3 linked regions of the Homo sapiens genome follow. The protein of the gene in region 2 interacts with the protein of the main gene of each other region in a pairwise test. Each region holds a gene or a part of one and is shown on either strand. Other genes may lie near its edges.

What was found. Proteins that work in one complex are often made in the same cells at the same time.
Region 1: the proteins of PMM1 (region 2) and RAB6A interact in binary tests that used the Homo sapiens proteins (3 or more experiments, as listed by UniProt).
Region 3: the proteins of PMM1 (region 2) and RAB6B interact in binary tests that used the Homo sapiens proteins (3 or more experiments, as listed by UniProt).

The regions. Positions count from the first base shown.
Region 1 is NC_000011.10:73,757,900-73,766,023, reverse strand, and holds the start of RAB6A (ras-related protein Rab-6A), read left to right. Parts: upstream 1-4,949; 5' UTR 4,950-5,388; coding exon 5,389-5,458; intron 5,459-5,928; exon of another isoform or gene 5,929-5,976; intron 5,977-8,124. UniProt on the Homo sapiens protein: The small GTPases Rab are key regulators of intracellular membrane trafficking, from the formation of transport vesicles to their fusion with membranes.
Region 2 is NC_000022.11:41,586,801-41,594,652, reverse strand, and holds the start of PMM1 (phosphomannomutase 1), read left to right. Parts: upstream 1-4,812; 5' UTR 4,813-4,847; coding exon 4,848-4,934; intron 4,935-5,489; coding exon of another isoform or gene 5,490-5,601; intron 5,602-5,885; coding exon of another isoform or gene 5,886-5,994; intron 5,995-7,852. UniProt on the Homo sapiens protein: Involved in the synthesis of the GDP-mannose and dolichol-phosphate-mannose required for a number of critical mannosyl transfer reactions. In addition, may be responsible for the degradation of glucose-1,6-bisphosphate in ischemic brain.
Region 3 is NC_000003.12:133,892,708-133,899,730, forward strand, and holds the start of RAB6B (ras-related protein Rab-6B), read right to left. Parts: upstream 3,176-7,023; 5' UTR 2,760-3,175; coding exon 2,690-2,759; intron 1-2,689. UniProt on the Homo sapiens protein: The small GTPases Rab are key regulators of intracellular membrane trafficking, from the formation of transport vesicles to their fusion with membranes. Rabs cycle between active GTP-bound and inactive GDP-bound states.

The DNA.
Region 1 (8,124 bases), on a different chromosome or scaffold from region 2:
GCCTTTTAGCTTTCTGCTTAGCCGTCATCAATGATTGGCTTTTTTCATTAGAATTATATATTAATGTTCGGCCGGGTGCGGTGGCTCACGCCTATAATCCCAGCACTTTGGGAGGCTGAGGCGGGCAGATCACGAGGTCAGGAGATCAAGACCATCCTGGCTAACACAGTGAAACCCCATCTCTACTAAAAATACAAAAAAATTAGCCGGGCATGGTGGCAGGCGCCTGTAGTCCCAGCTATTCGGGAGGCTGAGGCAGGAAAACGGCGTGAACCCGGGAGGCAGAGCTTCAATGTTCAGAAGAGCTATCTTAGCTCTAAATATCATGTCCTTACACAGCTACATCAATGGCAGAAAAATGGCAGTTTTTTCTCATTTATTCCTTTTCATCAAGGAAGAAAATATGTCTCTCTATCTCTCTTCTTCTCTTAGAATAAAAAAAGCCTCTAGCACATTTCCTTCATCTCCCACTGGCTCAGATGGACTCATGTGCCTATAACTTAGCTGAAGGGAGGCTGGAAACACATCTGTCATTTCTAGTATATATGGTGGAAGTATGTGTGTGTGTTATGTGTGCATTGCTGGATATGCAACCACTAGTGTCTGTCACTAAGAATAAGATGAAATTGACTGGGCGCAGTGGCTCACGCCTGTAATCTCAGCACTTTGGGAGGCCAAGGCAGGAGGATCACTTGAGGTCAGGAGTTTGAGACTAGCCTGGCCAACATGGTGAAACCCCGTCTCTACTGAAAATACAAAAATTAGCTGGACATGGTGGCACACTTCTGTAATCTCAGCTACTCAGGAGGCTGAGGCAGGAGAATCGCTTGAACCCAGGAAGTGGAGGTTGCAGTGAGCCGAGATCGGCCACTGCACTCCAGCCTGGACAGAGTAAGACTCTGTCTCCAAAAAGGAAAAAGAGAAATTTCAGCCAAGCACAGTGGCTCACGCCTGTAGTCCCAGCACTTTGGGAGAGCAAGATGGGCAGATCATCTAAGGTCGGGGGTTCGAGACTAGCCTGACCAACATGGAGAAACCCCATCTCTAGTAAAAATACACAATTAGCTGGGCGTGATGGCACATGCCTGTAATCTCAGCTACTCAGGAGGCTGAGGTGGGAGAATTGCTTGAACCCGACAGGCGGAGGTTGCGGTGAGCCGAGATCACGCCATTGCACTCCAGCCCGGGCAACAAGAGCAAAACTCTGTCTCAAAAAAAAAAAAAAAAAAAAAATTCAGTCCTCCTGCAAGAAGTTTTGTGTCTCTCAGGGCAGAAGATAAGCTATAATTTTATTACAATTTCTGTGTGATAGATTCCCTACATACTCCTGGGCTTCAATTTAGATATGACCTTTAAATAGATAATGAAAGCTGCTTTAGGTACTTTGAATTTGGAGCTGTGAAGACTGTCCTCTCCCATTGTTCCTAATTTTTAGTTACAAGATCTGTTCTCAGCATCTTTTTCATAAGTAATGGTTTAGGAAAGAAGTATCAAATTACATGACATATTTTTGGGTAATGTTCTCTTTCTCCAAAATGCTCTTAACCTTCCTTCTCTGCATGCCCAAATCCCATTCATCCTTTGAAGACAGTGAAAAATAATTCCTCTTTTATTTGATTTTGTCAGCAAACATCTGCTGCATGCTTACTATGTAGCAAGCACTCTTCAAGCACTGGGGATACAAGATGAGATCTGACCTCGTGGAGGTTACAGTCAAGTAGGGAACACTGACAATGAACAGCAATTAAGAATAGGATACAATAGGACAGGCAAAGGTACTTATACTGTTAGTGGGGATGGGAGCAGATGGGAGCAAGACTTGTGTGGTAGACTGAATGTTTGTGTCTCCCCAAAATTCATATGTTGAAACTATAGTCCCCAATGTGATGGTATTAGTAGGTGGGACCCTAGGGAGGTGATTAGGTCATGAGGGTGGAGTGCTCATAAATGGGATTAGTTCCCTTGTAAGAGGGAGCCCAGAGAGCTTTCTTGCTCTCTTTCTGCCATGTGAGGGCACAGTGAGAAGATGGTTGTCTATGAACCAGGAAGTGGGCCTTCACCAGACACAGTATCTTCTGGTACCTTGCTCTTGGACTTTCCAGTCTCCAGCTGTGAGAAATAAACATTTGTTGTTTAAGCCACCCAGTCATGGTATTCTGTTATAGCAGCCTGAATGGACAAAGACAACTTCTTTAAGTGGTAAGTGATTTAAAAGAAAAAAAAAAAAAGACAATTTCTTTAACTGAAGGATGAGTAGGAATTGGGGAAGAGTGGGGAAGGGAGGGGAAGAGTGTTTGCAGTAAAGAGAAGTGAGCGTAGGAAATCATGAAGGTGAAAATGTTGGTGAAAATACTCTTGAAAAGGGCCTCTCTAATTCCTCTTTCTCCTGAGTAATTTTTCCATTTGCTATACCCTACAGCACTTAATATGCAATGTTTAGGCCATAAAGTCTCTGAAGACAAAACTTACACAGAGTACTTGGTAATATGAAGGCAGCTTCAGAGGATAATGAGGCTGTGTATGTGTCAATGCAAAATGAAAGCTTAAAACATTAAAACATTTTAGGTAAGAGGTGGACTAGACCATAAGGCCCTTCAAAATGACAGGGAACAGTACCACCTGTCTAGGTGACTACAGAGACCAAAGCAGCAGGGAGGACTGATTCATAAAGTTCTGTAGGAAGTACAAAGTAATTATAGTTCCAATCCTCAGATGTTACTTTAAAGTCTATTTCAGGAAGCATAATGAAAACTTGGTACCCATCAGAAAGAAAATAGCTACTCACTTTTGTTTGCATAATCTTTTTAAAAAGTTTCTTGGTTTAAGCTGCTCTTTGTATGTGCCAGGGTTCTGGGTTAATGGTGGAGAGGACCCTATTAGATCTGACAAACTACTTGTAAAATCAAATGTCCATGCTACAAGCCAGGTTTTTACCATTTTATTTTAGATGCATGTTCTACCTGCACATGGCTGGGAGAGGAACCAGAAGGGAGTAAATTTTGATAGAGATGGTTTGAGGATATAGCTGTTGTCTTGATAGGCCAGAATAGATGATATTTTAAGAACTTTGGTTCTTCCCTGTAATTTATTCTAGGTCAGCAATTCATCCCTGGGCCTGAGAAGGCACTTTTTCAATCCTGTCATTTCTACAGCTAAGCAAATAACTCCCCAATAATGAGAAAAAGTACATAAATGTTTTGTGAATGATATACACAAATGATATACATTTGTGTATAGACACAAATGTAAGGACATATTTTTTATTATTCACTTAGAAAGTTTTTTTGTTTTTTTTTTTTTTTTTTAAGACAGGGACTTGTTCTGTCACCCAGATTTCAGTGTAGTGGTGCCATACCTCAGCCTCCAACTCCTGGACTCAAGCAATCCTTCTGCTTCAGGCTCCTGAGTAGCCGGAACTACAGGAGCACACCACGATATTCGGCTATTTTATTTTTTGTAGAGATAGTGTCTTGCTTTGTTGCCCAGCCTGGTCTCGAACTCCTGGGCTCAAGCGATTCTACCGCCTCGGCCTCCCAAAGTGCTGGGATTACAGACGTGAGCCACCGCGCCCAGCTGCTTTATGGATTTTTTTTTTTGGAGACAGAGTCTCGCTCTTGTTGCCCAGACTGGAGTGCAATGGTGTGACCTTGGCTCACTGCAACCTCCGCCTCCCGTGTTCAAGCGATTCTCCTGCCTCAGCCTCCCAAGTAGCTGGGATTACAGGCACCCGCCACCACACCACGTTAATTTTTTGTATTTTTAGTAGAGATGGGGTTTCATCATGTTGGCCAAGGCTGGTCTGGAACTCCTGACGTCAGGTGATCCACCCAACTCAGCCTTCCAAAGTGCTGGGATTACAGGGATGAGCCACCACGCCCGGCTTTTTTTTTTTTTTTTTTTTTTTTTTTCTGTTGAGATGGAGTCTCGCTCTGTCGCCAGGCTGGAGTGCAGTGGTGTGATCTCGGCTCACTGCAACCTCCGCCTCCCGGGTTCAAGCGATTCTCCTGCCTCAGCTTCCCGAGTAGCTGGGACTACAGGCGCGCGCCACCACCCCCAGCTAATTTTTGCATTTTTAGTAGAGACAGGGTTTCACCATGTTGGCCAGGATGGTCTCGATCTCTTGACCTCGTGATCCACTCGCCTCCGCCTCCCAAAGTGCTGGGATTACAGCCGTGGGCCACCGCGCCCAGCCCGCTTTATGGATTTTGCAAGTCATTTACTCCCTCTAAGCTTCAGTTTCCTCATCTGCAAAATTGGGAGGCCATGATTCTGGCAGTTATAACATTCCTGGGAGCAATGGAGGAGAATGTTATTTAGTAAGATGCCTGTGAGGAATTATGATGAGAGGATGGAGAAGGTGGGGTGTGTGCAATGGTGAAGAAGGGATCTGAGGACTGTGAGGCACGGCTGAGGGCTCAGGAAAGAGGCTCCCATTACAAATTTTAAGGCTATAGGACCCCACCCACACTTTTTGGGGGATCATATTCCACCTTTGTCCCGGCCCCGCCTCCGCCCCACCCTTCTCCCCCTCCCCTTTCTTTCCTTCCCCTCCCCTCAGGCTGAGAGGCGCCACACTTCTTATGGCCGCCACAGTGCTCCGCTTTCCACAGCTCGAGGGCTGCGCGCGCTCTCACGCTGCCACCTCACTCGCGTGTGGGCTCGCCCTCAGCCCCTTCCGATTGGCTCATTATGTAAGTGACGTAAGGGCTCCAGCCTCCCACTAACTTATCCCTGGCTTGCCCCGCCTCCTCCTGGCTTCTTTTGACGCCAGTGGAAACCTAACCTGCCCCGTCGCCGCCGTGCGGGAGGAGCCGGTAGAGCTGTCCAAACCAGGAAGGCGATGGCGATGGCGGTGGCGCGCACGCATGCACGCACGCACGCACGCCAGCGGCCGGCGGGGCCGCAGGCTCGCGCCCGGGCTCGCCCCGCGCCGCTCCAGAGGCTCGCGCACTCAGCAGGTTGGGCTGCGGCGGCGGCGGCAGCTGTGGAAGCTCAGGCGCTGCGCGTGAGAGGTCCCAGATACGTCTGCGGTTCCGGCTCCGCCACCCTCAGCTTCTCTTCCCCAGGTCTGGGAGCCGAGTGCGGAAGGAGGGAACGGCCCTAGCTTTGGGAAGCCAGAGGACACCCCTGGCTCCTGCCGACACCGCCCTCCTTCCCTTCCCAGCCGCGGGCCTCGCTCGGTGCTAGGCTACTCTGCCGGGAGGCGGCGGCGGCTGCCAGTCTGTGGAGAGTCCTGCTGCCCTCCAGCCGGGCTCCTCCACCGGGCCTTGCAGGGGCCGAGAGAGCTCGGTGCCCGCCCTTCCGCTCGCCTTTTTCGTCAGCTGGCTGGAGCAGCATCGGTCCGGGAGGTCTCTAGGCTGAGGCGGCGGCCGCTCCTCTAGTTCCACAATGTCCACGGGCGGAGACTTCGGGAATCCGCTGAGGAAATTCAAGCTGGTGTTCCTGGGGGAGCAAAGCGGTGAGTGCGTGGCTCCCCTACTCCTGGCAGCTGGCCGCAGCGTCCCCGCACCGCCCCCGGTGCGGCCCTTCCGTCCGCGGAGGCTCCCTGCCCGCCTCGCGTCCGCGCTCGTTGCCACCGCAGCCCTTCCCGATGTGCCCCCCGGTGCCACTGGCTCTTCGCCAGTGGCCGAGTTTTTACCCTGTTCCCCGGGTTCTTCAATCCTCGACTCCCCGGCTCCGTTCCCCGCAGTCCGGCCATCTCCGGTCGATCTGCCCTCCCTCCCCAGACCTCACCCCGCCCAGCCTCTTGTCCATCCCTTTCTTCCTCCGGTCTCGGTCATTGCCCGTACCCCGGCCCCCTTTCTTGAGCCCCACCCTTATTCCTTGCTCTTTTCCCAGTTCCTCAGCTCTGTGAGGCCCACTCAGGGAAGCCCCACTCCCGAGAGCGGGCCCTCTTCAACCTTGGCCAAGGAGGGTGGGATCTGGGCGTTGTTTTCCCCAGAGGCTTGGCCCTGCGAAGTGCTGATGTCGTGGAAGGTGGGAAGGGGTGGTAGTAGAAAAAATTAAATGATTTTCACCTGGGTGGGAAATTAGTCTGGGCCATAGAGGAAACATCTGAATTGGAGACGACTTGAGCATGGGGTGGTTGGGGGTGAAAGGGGTAGCGTCGGCAGTGGAGATTTTTGCCCCTTAGGTTAGATGGGGCTGTGGCTTGTCGGAAAACCTCATTTTGTTCTCTTGACTTTCATCACTGACAATTCTTTTGGCAATGTTGATGATTTTTCAATCTCTGCCAGATGCTATGTCATGATCATTTTACTTGGAATTTTTCTCATCTCACCTCCCCTTTTTCTCTTTTCAACATGAAGCAGCGTCTGAGTCTCATGGTGGTACAAAAGGGAATTACTGGGGAAATGTTAATTATTCATTCCTTCTTGAGTATTTTCCAATGATATATTGAGGATTCATGTGAGAGAAGGCTTGGAATAACAAACATCTTTGTTTTGTCGGATTTCCTTTGGAAAATGGAGTAGAGTAGGAACAGACTCATCATCTAGTTACCTAAATTAGATTTAAATACCATTTGGGCTAAATAATTCTTTTATGCTTAATATTCTGTACTGTCTGATGAGTGAAATTGTTATGTCATTTACCTGGTCAGGTTCTGCTGTCACTGTACTTTTGTATTAGATACTAGATCCTAATTTTGTGATGGTTGTATCTACGATTACTTCTTGTAGTAATTCCAGTTTTATGCTGTATTATACAAACTTGACACTCGACAATTCAGAGATGATTACCCTCCTTTGTTTTTCTCATACTTTGCATGCCCATCTTTAAAATTCAGACATTGAGAGATTAGTTCTGAGTCATCAAACATTGAGTACCTACTAGGTGTTTTAGGTGAGGTTATAGAAAACATTAGTTATTTGTTTTGACTGGAAGGCATGTAAGTGATATAAATTCGTAGCTTTTATTACTACTTTGAACTATTTATACTAATTTGTATGCCATCACAGAGGTTAATACTCTTGCAAAATTGCCTCCAGTTAGAACTGGGAAATCATTTTTCTCCTTTCATGTGTAGATTATCTTCCCCTCCTCCCTTTTGGGGGGAAAAATACAATCTCCCTCCTTTTTGCTTATATATTTTCCTGAAGTAAGTATAAACTTGTGTCTTTAGGTGAGTAACTTGGTAGAACCTATGGAGTTGCTTCTAGTCCAGCTTTTCTGTGTCAATATCAGGATAGTTCCCAAACATAAAATATAGTTTATTGGTTATTATTGATAAAAAGGATCCAAAGTGCTTATTGTGCATTCTAAGGATATTATTGCCTTCCTTATGTTGTGATGCACAGCTATTTAGTTTGCATGAAAAAACCTATTCATCTTCCTGCCTAAAAAGGTTTTAGCATGAATGGAGTGCTTAACTTCCTAAGTATCTTCAGGTTTCCTTTGAATTTCTTGAGTATTTGTGTATGTTCTAATGCATAATGGAGAGTTTTATGGCTTCTAATTTCGTACCTTGTTTAAGCCTCTACTACCCTCCCCCCTCCATTACTGAAGCCTGGTTAGATTTTTTTTAATAGACTTCATTTTTTAGAACAGTTTTAGACTTACAGAAAAATTGAAAAGATAGTGTAGAGTTCCCATATACCCACACATCTAGTTTCCCCTGTTATCAACATCTTGCATTAGTATGGCACATTTGTTAACAATTAATGAACTAATATTGATATGTTATTATTAACTTAAGTCCATAGTTTATTTAGATTTTTAGTTTTAACCTAATGTCCTTTTTCTGTTTCAGCATTCAATTCAGGATGTGAAGTTAATTATCTTTTGAGGTTACTATATTGTCAAGTAATGCCATTCATTAGCTTTGACAATGAAAGATTGATCTCTGTTTTCATGGTCAGTGTCTATAGTTTTCTTATGCGTTAGAAGTCTGTAGACTCCATGTCCTTTTGATGTAACTCTTCATGAATTATTTATTTTTAGGTCTGTTAGAATTCCACAATTCAGCTTTCAAAGACTGTAATCTATGGCAAAGCCTTGTTTCTTCTTAATAGCATTTACCACATTTACAATTATCTTATTTTTTATGTGTTTGTTTTTATTTCCCACAGAAGAATGCAACTCCCATGAAGATAAAAACTATTCTTTTTTGTTCAGTGTGTCCCC
Region 2 (7,852 bases):
TCCTGCTGGTTGTGTTCGTGGTCTCACTGGCTTCAGGAGTGAAGCTGCAGACCTTCGCAGTGAGTGTTGCAGTTTATAAAGGCAGTGTGGACCCAAAGAGCGAAAGAACAAACCTTCCACGTTGCGGAAGGGGACCCCAGAGGGTTGCTACTGCTGGCTCCTGGCAGCCTGCTTTTATTCTCTTATCTGGCCCCCCACCCCCACCCCCGCCACCCCCCGCCCCCACCGCCCCCCCCACCCCCGCCACCACCCCCGCCCCCACCCCCACCCCCCCACCGCCTCCCCCACCCCCCCACCGCCTCCCCCACCCCCCCACCCACATCCTGCTGATTGGTCCATTTTACAGAGAGCCAATTGGTCTGTTTTACAGAGAGCTGATTGGTCCGTTTTGACAGGGTGCTGATTGGTGCCTTTACAATCCCTGAGCTAGACACAAAAGTTCTCCACGTCCCAACTAGATTAGCTAGTTACAGAGTGTGGACACAAAGGTTCTCCAAGTCCCCACCAGAGTAGCTAGACACAGAGTGTCGACTGGTGCATTCACAAACCCTGAGCTAGACAGGCTGCTGATTGGTGTGTTTACAAACCTTGAGCTAGATACAGAGTGCCGATTGGTGTATTTACAATCCCTTAGCTAGACATAAAGGTTCTCCAAGTCCCCACCAGACTCAGGAGCCCAGTTGGCTTCACCCAGTGCATCTTGTACCGGGGCTGCAGGTGGAGCTGCCTGCCAGTCCCGCGCCGTGCGCCCGTACTCCTCAACCCTTGGGTGGTCGATGGGACTGGGCGCCATGGAGCAGGGGGCGGCGCTCGCCGGGGAGGCTCTGTCTGCGCAGGAGCCCACGGCAGAGGGTAGGCTCAGGCATGGCGGGCTGCAGGTCCGATCCCTGCCCAGCGGGGAGGCAGCTAAGGCCCTGTGAGAAATCGAGCGCAGCGCCGGTGGGCCGGCACTGCTGGGGGACCCGGCGCACCCTCCACAGCTGCTGGCCCGGCTGCTAAGCCCTTCACTGCTCGGGCCGGCACGGCCTGCCGCTCTGAGTGCGGGGCCCGCCAAGCCCACGCCCACCCAGAACTCTAGCTGGCCCGCAAGCGCCGCTTGCAGCCCCGGTTCCCGCCCGTGCCTCTCCCTCCACACCTCCCCGCAAGCCGAGGGAGCCGGCGCCGGCCTCGGCCAGCCCAGAGAAGGGCTCCCACAGTGCAGCGGCGGGCTGAAGGGCTCCTCAAGCACGGCCAGAATGGGCGCCGAGGCTGAGGAGGCACCAAGAGTGAGCGAGGGCTGCTAGTACGCTGTCACCTCTCATCACCTTTCATAGTTCTATCACGTGGGGTTTATATCCTCATTACATATAAAGAAACTGAAGCCCAGTGAGGAAAGGTGACCTGTCCAAGTCCTTGTAGTTAGCCAGGACCAAACTGCAGTTCTCCTGATTCCAACTCCAATGATCTCTCCAGGACACCATAGCTACCCAGTCAGAAAAACAAGAATTGTGCCTGGGGATCTGGTGCGGTGGGTCAGGCCTGTAATCCCAACACTTTGGTCACGCCTGTAATCCCAACACTTTGGGAGGCTGAGTCGTGAGGACCATTTGAGGCCAGGAGTTTGAGAGCAGCCTGGACAAAATAGTGAGACCCTATTCTACACACACACGTGCACACGCACACAAACACAATGCAGATTTTCATGGCTTCGTAGCATTTCATCTTCTAGATGGGTCTTAGTTCATTTAAACAATTCCATATATTTTTCCTTTTTTCTATTTTCTTTTCTTTCTTTTTTTTTTGAGACGGAGTCTGCTCTGTTGCCCAGGCTGGAGTGCAGTGGCGTGATCTCGGTTCACTGCAAGCTCCGCCTCCCAGGTTCACACCATTCTCCTGCCTCAGCCTCCCAAGTAACTGGGACTATAGGCACCCGCCACCACGCCCAGCTAATTTTTTGTATTGTTAGTAGAGATGGGGTTTCACCGTGTTAGCCAGGATGGTCTCGATCTCCTGACCTCGTGATCCGCCCACCTCAGCCTTCCAAAGTGCTGGATTACAGGTGTGAACCACCGCGCTTGGCCTTTTTTTTTTTTTTTCCGAGTCAGAGTCTCGCTCTATGGCCCAGGCTGGAGTGCAGTGGTGTGATCTCGGCTCACTGCAAGCTCCGCCTCCCGGGTTCAAGGGATTCTCCTGCCTCAGCCTCCCGAGTCGCTGGGACTACAGGTGCCGCCACTACGCCTGGCTAATTTTTTGTATTTTTAGTAGAGACGGGGTTTCACCACGTTAGCCAGGATGGTCTCGATCTCTTGACCTTGTGGTCTGCCTGCCTTGGCCTCCCAAAGTGCTGGGATTACAGGCGTGAGCTACCGCGCTCAGCCTCTTTTCCTATTTTCTAAAAGTTGAATTGCTGACTCATATGATCTGCATCTTTTTTTTTTTTTTTCTTGAGACAGGGTCTCACTACTGTTACCCAGGCTGGAGTGCAGTGGGAAGATCTGGTTCGTTGCAGCCTCAGCTTCCTGGTGATTCTCCTACTTTAGCCTCCTGAGGGACCACAGGTGCCTGCCACCATGCCTGGCTAATGTTTTGTATTTTTAGTAGAGACAGCATTTTGCCATGTTGCCCAGGCTGATCTTGACCTCCTGGGTTCAAACAATCCACCCACCTTGGCCTCCCAAAGTGCTGGAATTACAGGTGTGAGCCACCGCATCCAGCTCTACAGTTATTTTTTATTTATTTAGTTAGTTAGTTAGTTAGTTAGTTTGTTTGTTTGAGGTGTAGTCTCCCTCTGTCTCCCAGGCTGGAGCGCAGTGGCATCATCTCGGCTCACTGCAACCACCGCCTTCCAGGTTCAAGTGATTCTTCCGCCTCAGCCTCCCAAGTAGCTGGGATTACAGGCTCCTGCCACCATGCCCGGCTAATTTTTGTATTTTTAGTAGAGACGGACTTTCCCCATGTTGGCCAGGCTGGTCTCAAACTCATGACCTCAGGTGATCTGCCCATCCCGGCCTCCCAAAGTGTTGGGATTACAGGCGTGAGCCACCGCGCCCAGCCTGTTACTTATTTTCATGTGAAAAGCAAACCTACAAAGCAGGTGGTGTTCATCCCATTTTATAGGTGAAGACACAAAGCCTCTGAGAGGTGAAGTGACTTGTCCAAGGTCCCATAGTGGTGGAGCTGGGAAGGCAACCTGGAAGTGACTCCAAAGTCAACGCAATGGTTAAATAATTGTGAATCGAATCTGGGAAGGTTGGCTGGGAACGGTGGCTCATGCCTGTATTCCCAGCACTTTGGGAGGCTGAGGCAGGCAGATCACCTGAGGCCAGGAGTTCGAGACCAGCCTGGCTAACATGGTGAAAATACAAAATTACTACTAAAAATAAAAAATTAGCCGAGCGTGGTAGTGGGTACAAAATAATCCCAGCTACTCGGGAGGCAGAGGTTGTGGTGAGCTGAAATCGTGCCATTGCACTCCAGCCTGGGCAACAAGAGCAAAACTCCGTCTCAGAAAAAAAAAAAAAATTAGCCGGGCGTGGTGGCGCACTTCTGTAGTTTCAGCTACTCAGGAGGCTGAGGCAGGAGAATCACTTGAACCTGGGAGGCGGAGGTTGCAGTGAGCCGAGATCATGCCACTGCACTCCAACCTGAGTAACAGAGTGAGACCCAGTCTCAAAAAATAAATAAATAAATAAATAAATCGCCCTGTGTCAAAAATAAAATAAAATAAACATAAAAGTAAGTAAAAATACAAAAATTAGGTGGGCATGGTGGCACACGCCTGCAGTCCCAGCTACTCGGGAGGCTGAGGCATGAGAACCGCTTGAACCTGGGAGGTGGAGGTTGCAGTGGGCAGAGATCCCGCCACTGCACTCCAGCCTGGGCAGAGCGAGACTCTGTCTCAAAAAAAAAAAAAAAAAAGAAGAATCTGGGAAGGTCTCCAAGCAGGTAGACCCTGAGAGCTGGGTCTTATGTGTGGACAGAAGGAATAAGGCTCGGGGAAGGCAATTTGGCAAAGTCCAAAGCCTGAACAAAGGCCTTCAGGAGATTTCTTTTCTTTTCTTTTCTTTCCTTTTTTTTTTTTTTTTTTTTTTTTGAGGCTGGAGTGCAATGGCGCGATCTCGGCTCACCGCAACCTCTGGCTTCTTTGGAATCAAGCGATTCTCCTGCCTCAGCCTCCTGAGTAGCTGAGATTACAGGCATGCGCCACCACGCCTGGCTAATTTTGTATTTTTAGTAGAGACGAGGTTTCTCCATGTTGGTCAGGCTGGTCTCGAACTCCCGACCTCCGGTGATCCGCCCGCCTCGACGTCCCAAACTGCTGGGATTACAGGCGTGAACCACCGCGCCCGGCTCAGGAGATTTCCTACAGCTCAAAATTTGTAAGGCAAAGAGATGGCCACAAACCTTGTGAGAGTGGATGGGGAGCGACCTCGGCTCTCTTAGTCCCGCCTGGCCCACTAGACACTGCACTGCATGGTAGAGGCCCCGCCCGACCCAGCCCCTTAATCGGCCTGTTGCAATCACTATCAACCCGCCAATTCTGGCCCCGCCCCTGTCTTCCGGGTTCACCCTCTCACTTCCTGCGGGTCCCAGGCTCAGGCCCCTCCTCCGCCTTGTTTGGAGCAATCCAATCGAACCTGGAGGGCTCCGCTCCGCCCTATGCCGCGCTCCCCTCCTCCACGAGCAATGAGAATCAGCTCAGGCCCCGCCCCCGCTTCCGCCCGCCTAGACCACGCCCCTTCTTCATTTGGCCAATCAGGCAGTCCACTGGCCCCCGCCCCCTAATGCCCCGCCCCGTCAGCACTTATCCCTGAGCTGCTTCTGCCGTTGCATCTTCGGGACTCCGCCCCGCGCGCGGACCTGCAGCCATGGCAGTCACCGCCCAGGCAGCCCGCAGGAAGGAGCGCGTCCTCTGCCTGTTTGACGTGGACGGGACCCTCACGCCGGCTCGCCAGGTAGGACCCTGAAGATTGGAAGCTCCCACCGGGAGTGTCACGCGGACACCCCCGAGGCTGAGTGTGGGGTCTGCAGCAGCGTGACCGTGGACACCCGGGGACCGAGTGTGGGATGCGGCGGTACCCGGCCCCCTGACATCCGGGGCCACCCACCGGGAGTGAGGGGACCTGGCCCTCACGTCACTGACCCCGCAGCGTCCTTGCCTGTGTTCTGCTTGGGAGTGCTGGGGTTGGATCCAGTACTGGAGGGAGGAGGCTGCGAGCAGGGGCCTAGCTCCCTCCCTCCCCGGAGGCTGTCACACGCCGCTAAGGCCTGGCTCACGGACGCCCCCGCCTCCTGAGCTGGGGATCCCACCCTAGTTCAGCCCTACGACACACCAGTGGTCGGAGCTGGCTTCTGAACCGGGGTTCCAGGCACACAAGCACACAGCCAAGCGTCAGTCATCATCTGGTGGGAGACAGGGCGTCTCGGAGTCTTCCCACCCCGACCTTTGCAGGCCTGGGACTGGGTCTAGTTTCTGAAGCCCCATCACCCACTTTACCTTCCACCCCCAGTCGTGGAGCAGAGAGGGCTTCTTTTCAAATTCGTTTATGAGCTCTACCCACCCGGATGTGAGAGGCTCCAGGCCTAGCCTGTTTGCTGTGAGGACACTGAGGAATAGTGAGGGTAAGAGTCTAGTTTTCTTCTAAAGACTCTCGCTGTGTTGAGCCTCTTACCTCTGCTCAGTTTTTCTCCCATTGGGTCTCATTGTGAGTGAGTCCCCAAAAGCCCCCTCACCAGCTGGATGCATCAGTAAGCAGGCTTCATTCATGCCCTCCCTGTGGGTAACCCACCCTCCAGTCTGGGGGCCTCAAGGACCAACCAACAGGTCTCCTAGCGTGGGGGAGCAGTGGGATGGGCTTTACTGGGCAGTGGCTGATGGGAACCCAGGTCTTAGCCTCCTCTCTTAGGTCCCGAATGCCCCTCCCCATCCTCTGTGGTGAAGTTGCCCTGGCTTGGGCCCTGGAGGCCTTCCTGCAGGGGTGGATCCGGGAGGAAGATAGCAGGACTGGAGCAAAGGTGGGCCATTTGCTTGTGGGTCACGCCTGTAATCCCAGCACTTTGGGAGGCCATGGTGGGCAGATCACCTGAGGTCAGGAATTCTAGATCAGTCTGGCTAACATGGTGAAACCCCGTCTCTACTAAAAATACAAAAATTAGGCTGGGTTCAGTGGCTCACGCCTGTAATCCCAGCACTTTGGGAGGCCGAGGCAGACAGATCACGATGTCAGGAGTTTAAGACCAGCCTGACCAATATCGTGAAACCCTATCTCTACTAAAAATACAAAAAATTAGCCAGGCGTGGTGGCATGCACCTGTAATCCTAGCTAGTCGGGAGGCTGAGGCAGGAGAATCACTTGAACCCGAGAGGCAGAAGTTGCAGTGAGCCGAGAATGTGCCATTGCACTACAGCCTGGGCGACAGAGGGAGACTCAGTCTCAAAACAAAACAAAACAAAAAGTAGATGGGCGTGGTGTCGTGTGCCTGTAGTCCCAGCTACTGGGGAGGCAGAGGCAGGAGAATCGATTGAACCCAGGAGGTGGAGGTTGCAGTGAGCCAAGATTGTGCCATTGCACTCCAGCCTGGGCAACAAGAGTGAAACTCCGTCTCAAACAAACAAATAAATGAATAAAAGAACTGGAACAAAAGTGGCAGGGCCTAGGCACAGTTCTGACTCCTCCCTCTGACCTTTTGCTCCACAAACATAACAACCTGAATAAGAACAGCCTATTAATTTGTCTACGGGCCAGCCTCTGTGCTTAGTGCCTTTTGAAAGTTAATTTTTAATCGTACACATTTTCATGAGCACACTCTCCTGGTAAAGAATGGAAACGTAACAGAGAAGGGTAAAGTCCACTCTGACCGCACTTGGGGAGCCTGGCCGGCTCCCCAAGTTAATGTGGTTACTGTGGTGTGGCTTCCCTCCAGGCCTTTATCTGGATCTATTTGCCCAGAGCAAATATTAAGCATTGTTTTGTGAGGCTATTTTTGTTATTGTTCTTTGGCTCCTCAAAAATCAACTTGATTGTGATGCTATTTTGTTGTTGTTGTTGTTAGAGACCGGGGTCTCACTCTGTCACTCAGTCTGGAGTGCAGTGGCGCTATCACAGCTCACTGCAGCCTCGAACTCCTGGGCTCAAGTGATTCTCCCGCCTCAGCTTCTGGAGTAGCTGGTAGCTGGGACTACAGGCAAGTGCCACCATGCCTGGCTAATATCTTTTTTTTTTTTTTTTTTTGGAGATGAAATCTCATTCTTGTCCCCCAGGCTGGAGTGCGATGGCATGATCTCGGTTCACTGCAACCTCCACCTCCCGGGTTCAAGGGATTCTCCTGCCTCAGCCTCCTGAGTAGCTGGGATTACAGGCGCTTGCCACCACGCCCAGCTAATTTTTTTTTCTTTTTTTTTTTGAGACGGAGTCTCGCTCTGTCGCCCAGGCTGGAGTGCAGTGGCGTGATCTCAGCTCACTGCAAGCTCTGCCTCCCAAGTTCACGCCATTCTCCTGCCTCAGCCCTCCCGAGTAGCTGGGACTACAGGCGCGTGCCACCACGCCCGGCTAATTTTTTTGTATTTTTTAGTAGAGACAGGGTTTCACCATGTTAGCCAGGATGGTCTCAATCCCCTGACCTTGTGATCCACCCGCCTCGGCCTCCCAAAGTGCTGGGATTACAGGCGTGAGCCACCGCGCATGGCCAATTTTTTTTTTTTTTTTTTTTTAATTTTTAGTAGAAACAGAGTTTCACCATGTTGGCCAGGCTGGTCTCGAACTCCTGACATCAAGTGATCCACCCTCCTGGGCCTCCCAAAGTGCTGGGATTACTGGTGTGAACCACCGTGCCAGCCCATGCCTGGCTAATTTTTAAAAACTTTCGGCCAGGC
Region 3 (7,023 bases), on a different chromosome or scaffold from region 2:
AGCTGGCCCAAGTCCCCCATGCACAGAAGATAAGGGACCTCTGAGGTCATATAAAAAGAGCGAGCCAGGGCCAGCGTGAGGGCCAGCCCTCAGGTGGCTCTCTCCACTGCACAGGCTGCAGAGAATGCTGGCACAAATGACCAACAGATGCAAAACTGTGCAGGCAAGGTAGAAGAAGCGGCTGTGGAGGTGACTCCCCATCCCATAAGGCTTAGAGATGCACATACATGTCCCCTACCTAACTCAAAAGCTGTGTAAAACCTAAAAGAACCCACTAACAATGCAACAAATTGGAAACAGGCTTTTCAGGGCCTTGGGACTCCCTGACAGAAGGCACCAGGGTGGCCAGCAGCCCATCTCACTGATAGCAGTGACTCTCTAATGACCATGTTCCAAGGGCTCACAACCCTGCTCCTTACCAACTACTCAGCATTCCTACCAGTCACAAGCCCCAACTATAAGCCTGGCTGGACAGAAGCAACCCTTACTCCCTCTTGGGGAGGCTCCCCAGTTGTTGGCTTCCCCAATTCAAGGTCATCTTACTTCACAATGACACGCTAGTGAAAAATATTGGACTGGAAATGAGAGGTGGGGCTCCAGCCCAGAAGCATTAGCAACTCACAATGGGACTCTGGGACTCCAGGCAAGGCCTCCCTGTTCCCTGGGGCTCAGACTTCCCATTTGAACATATGGGAGAGGTGGTGGGTTCATTTCTTAGGCTTCAGCTCTCATTTCTGTGATTTTGGGAGCAAAGGGGGTCTGTGGAGCCCAGCAGGGGCCTCCGTTCATCAGGGATTCTGAAGGAGCCCAGATGTTCCCTCAAACTCACCAGAGACACTTTCTTCACCAAACTCCTAGTCCTTTCTGAAGCTTGTGCAGACTTAGAACAAATGTTTGCTGAGAACCTACCAGGGGCCAGGCACTTTGAGAGGCACTAAAGAAACATGAAGAAGTAAGAGAATTGTCTTCAAGCAACCATTTTTCAGAGACAGAAAGTGAGTCACAGAGAGGCCTCAAATTTTACTAAAGACAACACAGCTAAGAATTCAACCCCCAGGCTGCCTGATCCCTGCAGGTTATCTCCCAGGGCTCCAGGCCGGGTGAGACTAGCACTGGGATGTGAATACCACCAAAATCCCTTCCAGACACAGGGTATGGTCAGCTCTATGAAACTGGGATCTATTAAAAACAGGCAATCAGAATCCAGGGCAAACGCTGGCTGGCTGAGTGGATCTTCTTCTGAAATGCCCAGCCTGTCCCCCAAACCCATCTCCATACTGGGCCTGGACACTACCTTCTAACGTCCTTCTCTGAACCATCCATCTTAGGCAATGAGTATCAGCAGACAAGAGCCAGCCACGTGACCTCCATAACCCTCATGTACACACAGCACAGTAGCACTGTTCCTGGGCCCACCCAGTCCTCCCACAGCTGCCTTTCTTTTGGGCCCCCTTGTCAGAGAGGCACCAACCCAGGTGAACAGGACTGGTCTGCAGAGGCAGAGCTGGGGTCCTGTCCCGCAAGGACAGCCTTCTCCCAGAGCAGAGCTGACCAGAGCTCAGTTTGTCTCCCTGCAGCCCCATGCGAGAGGCCTCTGGAGGGATGCTCTGAAAGCCACTCCTTCCTACAGGTGGCAGAGGGGTCCCTGCCCTTCAATCTGGGCTTCCCGCCTCTAGGGACTAACCTGGTTTTCAGAGATGTTTTCCTGGGGAGGGAGCCGGGCAGCGGAGAAGCAGTCTCCCCCTCCCCCAGCTCTGGCCGACTGCCAGGGTGACCTCCCCTCCCCCAAGAAGGGCGGTGAGCTGGGAGGTGGGGGTGGGAAGAATCCACCGATGCTCTCTGGAGGAGTGCTGGGAAGCTAGGCAGGGCGTGTCGCCTGGGCCTTTCTCTGCCCAGAGCCAGACTTCACAGCCTCTCGGTGTGAGGTGCCCCTGTATCATTCCCCAAATCGCCTCGAGTTGGGGTAGCCCTCACTGCAATTGCCCAGATCCCTGGGCAGCAAGGAGACTAACAAGCGCCGGCGAAGGGCAGCGGGTCTAGAACCTTCTGTGCCCAGTCGGACGTGAGCCAGGGGAGGTAGGCTCCCCGTTCCCCCATGGCCTGCACTCGCTCTTTCGAGCAGAGACAGGTGTCGCTCTTTTCTCCCCGGTGGCTGTTTGTCCCACGCCCTGGACGTGCCCTTTCGCATGGTTCCCAGCAGGGTCCGCAGGGAACACCCCTCCAGTGCAGCGGAGTGAGGCCCGGCCAGACCCCAGCTTCGCTTCGTTCTCCAAGGGGGGCGCCCGTCGCTCTCCCCACCCCCGCCAGCACCCAGCCACCTGCGCGGTCGCCCGCAGCCGGTGCCGCAGTGTGAGCTAGCCAGCGAGCCCGGTTCCTTCACGCCCTGGCCAGCGCCGCGGAGCCAGCCGCCGCCCTCCGGGCCCCCTGCAGCGCCGCACCTGCACCCACACCCCGGGCCCCCCACCCAGAGCCCACCCTCACCTCCACCCCAGGCTCCAGCGCCTCCTCCGTCCTCACCCTTGGCCCCTCCCCAGCCCGACCCCGCCCCGACCTCCCCATCCCTGTCCCTCTCCTCTACCCTGGCAAGGAGGGGCCTTTCCGAGCCTGGGCCGGGGGTCCCAATGGGGTGGGCGATTGGGCGGCGGGGGTCGACTCGGCGACAAGCCAAGAGATTAAGCCGGGTACTTACCGCTCTGCTCCCCCAAGAACACCAACTTGAATTTTCTCAGTGGATTCCCAAAATCTCCCCCTGCGGACATGGTGCTGGCAGCCGGGGCCGGGAGAGGAGGAGGAGGAAAAAGCGAAGGAGCAGGGAGGGGAGAGTAGGAGGGCGAGGGGAGGCGGCCGGCGGTGCGGGAGCCGGAGGGGGAAGGGCTGGCTGCGCGCGTCCCTGACTCCCCAGCTGCGTCCCGGTCCCGGCCTGCGGCTGCGTGTCCGGCGGCGGAGGAGGAGGAGGAGAGAGAGGCGGAGGCGGAGGAAGGCTGGGGCTGGGCTGCTGCGGTCGGCACTGGCTGCGGTGCGAGGGGCGCGCTCTTTACGCCCGAGGCGCGGCGCTGGGAGAGAGGCGCGGGCGGAGCGGGGCGCAGGGACGGCGCGCGGGGCGGAGGAGCGCTCTCCAGAGCCGCGCCAGTCGGCCCCCTCCCGCCTGCCTCCTCCGCCGGCGCCTGCGCTCTGTGCGCTCCCCAGCCTCTGATGTCATGCGGGGCCCGCGGGGCTGCGGGGCTGGGGGGCGTGCGCCCGCCCACCCGAGCCCGCACCCGGGCAGGAGAGAACCTCCTCGCCGTACCCCTGAGAGCCCCCCGGGGGGGACCGTGTCTCGCTGCCCCGCTGCGTCTGTCTTCCCCACTCTACCCCTCTTTTGAATCCAGAAAATGACAGAAATTGTCAGGGGACATTTGTTTCTGGTCTTTTAAACCTAGATGCCAGTCCCTTCCTCCACCTCGCGAGACACCGATGCACAGCGCAGTCGTCCGACCGACAGGGCGGAAAGGAACGAAGGTGGGGGAGAGCCAGGGTGTGGCGAGGCCCGTCAGGGCGGTCAGACCTAGGGAAACCTGGCGTACTTGGCGCAGATGGGGCTCGACTCTTGCCCCCCGTGGCTTCTAGCCCGCCCTTCCCTCTCGAGGCCTAGACCCTTTATTTGGGCGGCCTCTTGTGGAGTCTGTGGGTGCCCCCGCAGACCTGGCCAGCGAGAGAGGAGCTGCCAATATCAGGCGCGCCTACCTCAAACCAGCTGCTCATTTGGATCATTTTATGCCAAATCCTAACCTGCCCCATGGGAGAGAAGGAACGGTGACGCTCTGAATGCCAGTGCCACTATCTCCAGGACAGTGCCCTGCGTTTCTTGATCCCGGGGTCGCCAGGCTGACAATGCCACTCCCCACCCTGGCAATTAGGTGTATCTGGACAATGAGCTATCTGAGGACATGTGGGCGACCTCTCCTTGGCCTCTACTTGCCTGGTCCATCGAGGCACACAGACCAAGTTGTGAGTGAGTGAGAGCAAAGAGCAGACGCCAAGTGCTAGAAACACTCCCAAGACAGCCCGAGCCTAAGGCATGCTGGTTAATTGAGGTTTTACAAAGCTGTCCCTTACTGTTCTGCCACAGCGTGGTCTTGTTCATTTATGGCTGTTCAGTGAGCATTTATTTGAGATAATAATCTGCATGTCGGTGAACACGATGGTGTGTGCACGCATGTGTTATAGAAAGAGAAAGAGGAGTGAGACACAACCTTCACCTCCAGATTTCTCGTGGACACTTGTTACCCCCTTTTTGACTTATGGGGCTTGCTTGGGCAAGCCTATCTGTCTCCCTGGTGTGCTCACCTCGAATCTCTTTCCTATTTCTTGTTAGAAACCTGACCACAAGTTCCATAAAAGCAGTAGTTGAAGCTCCACCACTGCATCCCAAGGACATAGCTCAGAGTTTAAGAAATAGTTGTTGAATGTTTGAATGAACATCTAGAACTCAAATCAAAATAACTGTCCTATTCTCATAATTACCTTTAGTTTGGAACCCCAGGGATTGTAAGTCATCACCTAGAATATCTGCCCCGTTGTGGCTGGCACCAGGCTCAGGGTAACCCTCCAGACACCCACCCACTTCTCTGGGGCTCCTGCTCTCTTAGGAGACCATATCCAGCTTGGGGTTGAAGAAAGCTCTGAAAGGAGAGGAGACTCCCAAGTCACAGCCCTTCCCGTCTCTATAAGTGATCCCTCCAAAGAAGGGCCAGTGAGCTACTGGCCAAGGTACCCAGCCATGCAACACTCCTCCAACCTGCACCTTCTCCTAACATCTAGTGCTGTCTCCCTGTACCCTCTCATCCTGACCTGATGAGATCATCGGTGGCAAGACAAAACAGCTGAGGTGTGCCAGAAAAGGCACCATCTTTTGGGTAAGCCTAGGCAGGTCCTGTACCTCCTCTGATCATCTGGTCCCGCACATGTAAGGTGGTATGGCAGTAGGGGAGGGAGGGCTGGGGCAGGGCCCCTCTGGGCACCTCTAAGCCTCCAAGTCATCCCATATGCTTACCAGGTCCAGCTGGGCTGACTATGGTCCAGCTTACTTTGGGGGACTCTGTCATAATTCTTCCAGTTCAAATGACAAAAACCCGGCTCCGACTACCGGGCTCACGTCGCTGGAGCAGATACTGGCATTGCTCTCAGAATGCAGTCATCATGCTGTGGAAATGAGAGCCTTAGAGACTCCAAGTTTGCTCTGCTCCAAGTCTCTCTCCTCCAACTATCATTGCTTATCTCCCCTGATTTTGAGTCTTGTCCTTAACCTGCCCTAAAGCAGACAGACTTTCTCCAGGTGGAAAATGGGGCCACTGAACCTCAGCCTGGCAACCTCACTAGAAAGAGTTTCTTCCATATCATAGAATCTGTGCATTCCATTTAAAAAAATTCTTTAAATCTTCCTATTTAGTATGTGCTGTGTATATGTAAGTTACAAAGAAAACCTATCACTCTGAGTGCCCATTTACCCTCTACACAGCTGGAGGGCTCAAATATTATAGTACTTTTCAGGCCCCCAGGTGCTTTCTTCTCCTTCCTCCCTCCCCAACTTGGAAATCCAGAATCTTAGCTTTTCTTTGAGTTTTATCACATTGGATGTGTCCTTCACAATACTTTGTTTTGTTTTGCATCTTTTGAATCTTATATAAGGTATCAAACTGTGTTTTCTGTCCTGACTTGCATGTTTCTTAACATCATGTTTCTGAGATCCATTTGTTAATTCATGTAGCAGCAGTTCTTTCATTTTCACTGCTGGTTAGTATTCTAGTTATGCCCCAATTTTTAAATGATTTTCTGTAAAATGTGTCATTTAAAATTTTTATTTTATTTTATTTTATTATTGTTGTTATTATTTTTGAGATGGAGTCTTGGTCTGTCACCAGGCTGGAGTGTAGCGGCGCCATCTCGGCTCACTGTAACCTCCGCCTCCCAGGTTCAAGCAATTCACCTGCCTCAGCCTCCCGAGTAGCTGGTACTACAGCCACGCACCACCAGGTCTAGCTAATTTTTTTATTTTTAGTAGAGCCGAGGTTTCACCATGTTGACCAGAATGGTCTCAATCTCTTAACCTCGTGATCCGCCTGCATCAGCCTCCCAAAGTGCTGGGATTACAGGTGTGAGCCACCACGCCTGGCCTTTTTTAAAATTATTTTAAATAATTTTATACTCACATAGAGGTTATAAAAAACAGTGCAGGGAGTTACTATGTATCCTGCACCAAGCTACCCCAGTGATAACATCTTACATAACCACATTGCTTAGTAAAACCAGGAAATTAACATTGGAAAATGCACTCAGTTTTGTTTCTGCTATTAACAAACAATGCTGCCATCAACATTCTTTACATGTCTCTTGATGCCTCTGTGAAGTTTTTCTAAGATATGTGTCAGTAGGTAAATTGTGGTATAAAAACAAGTGTACGTTTAATTTTGTGCCAAACTATTTTTCAAAGATATTCGTTAGATCATATAGCACTACAGCATCATCTATATTTTTCATTTTCTTCAAGATCTTGGTTTTCCTGAGCCCTTTGCTGTGTTATATATATATATATATATATTTAAATTAAATTTTTGAGATCATTGTAGATTCACAAACAGGAAAAAAAAAAAAGACAGATCTGTATATCCTTTATCTAGTTTTCACCAAGAGTAAGATCTTGCAGAACTTTATACTACAGTATCATAATGTGGATACTGGAATTAAGACAGTCAAGGTACATTTCTGTTCTGTACCTTGACACACAAAGAGCCCTCATGTTCCCCTTTTATAGCCACACCCACTTTCCTCCCACCCTCAACCCCTTCCTAACCTCTGGCAACCACTAATCTGTTCTTCATTTCAATAAATGTGTTATTTCAAGAATCTTATATAAGTGGCATTACACAGTATATCACCCTTTGGGATTGTTTTTTTCACTTCACCTGGCTGGAGCACTCAAATATTACAGTACTTTTGAGGCCCTCAGGTGTTTCTGCCCCTCCCTCTCTCCCCAGCTTGAAAATC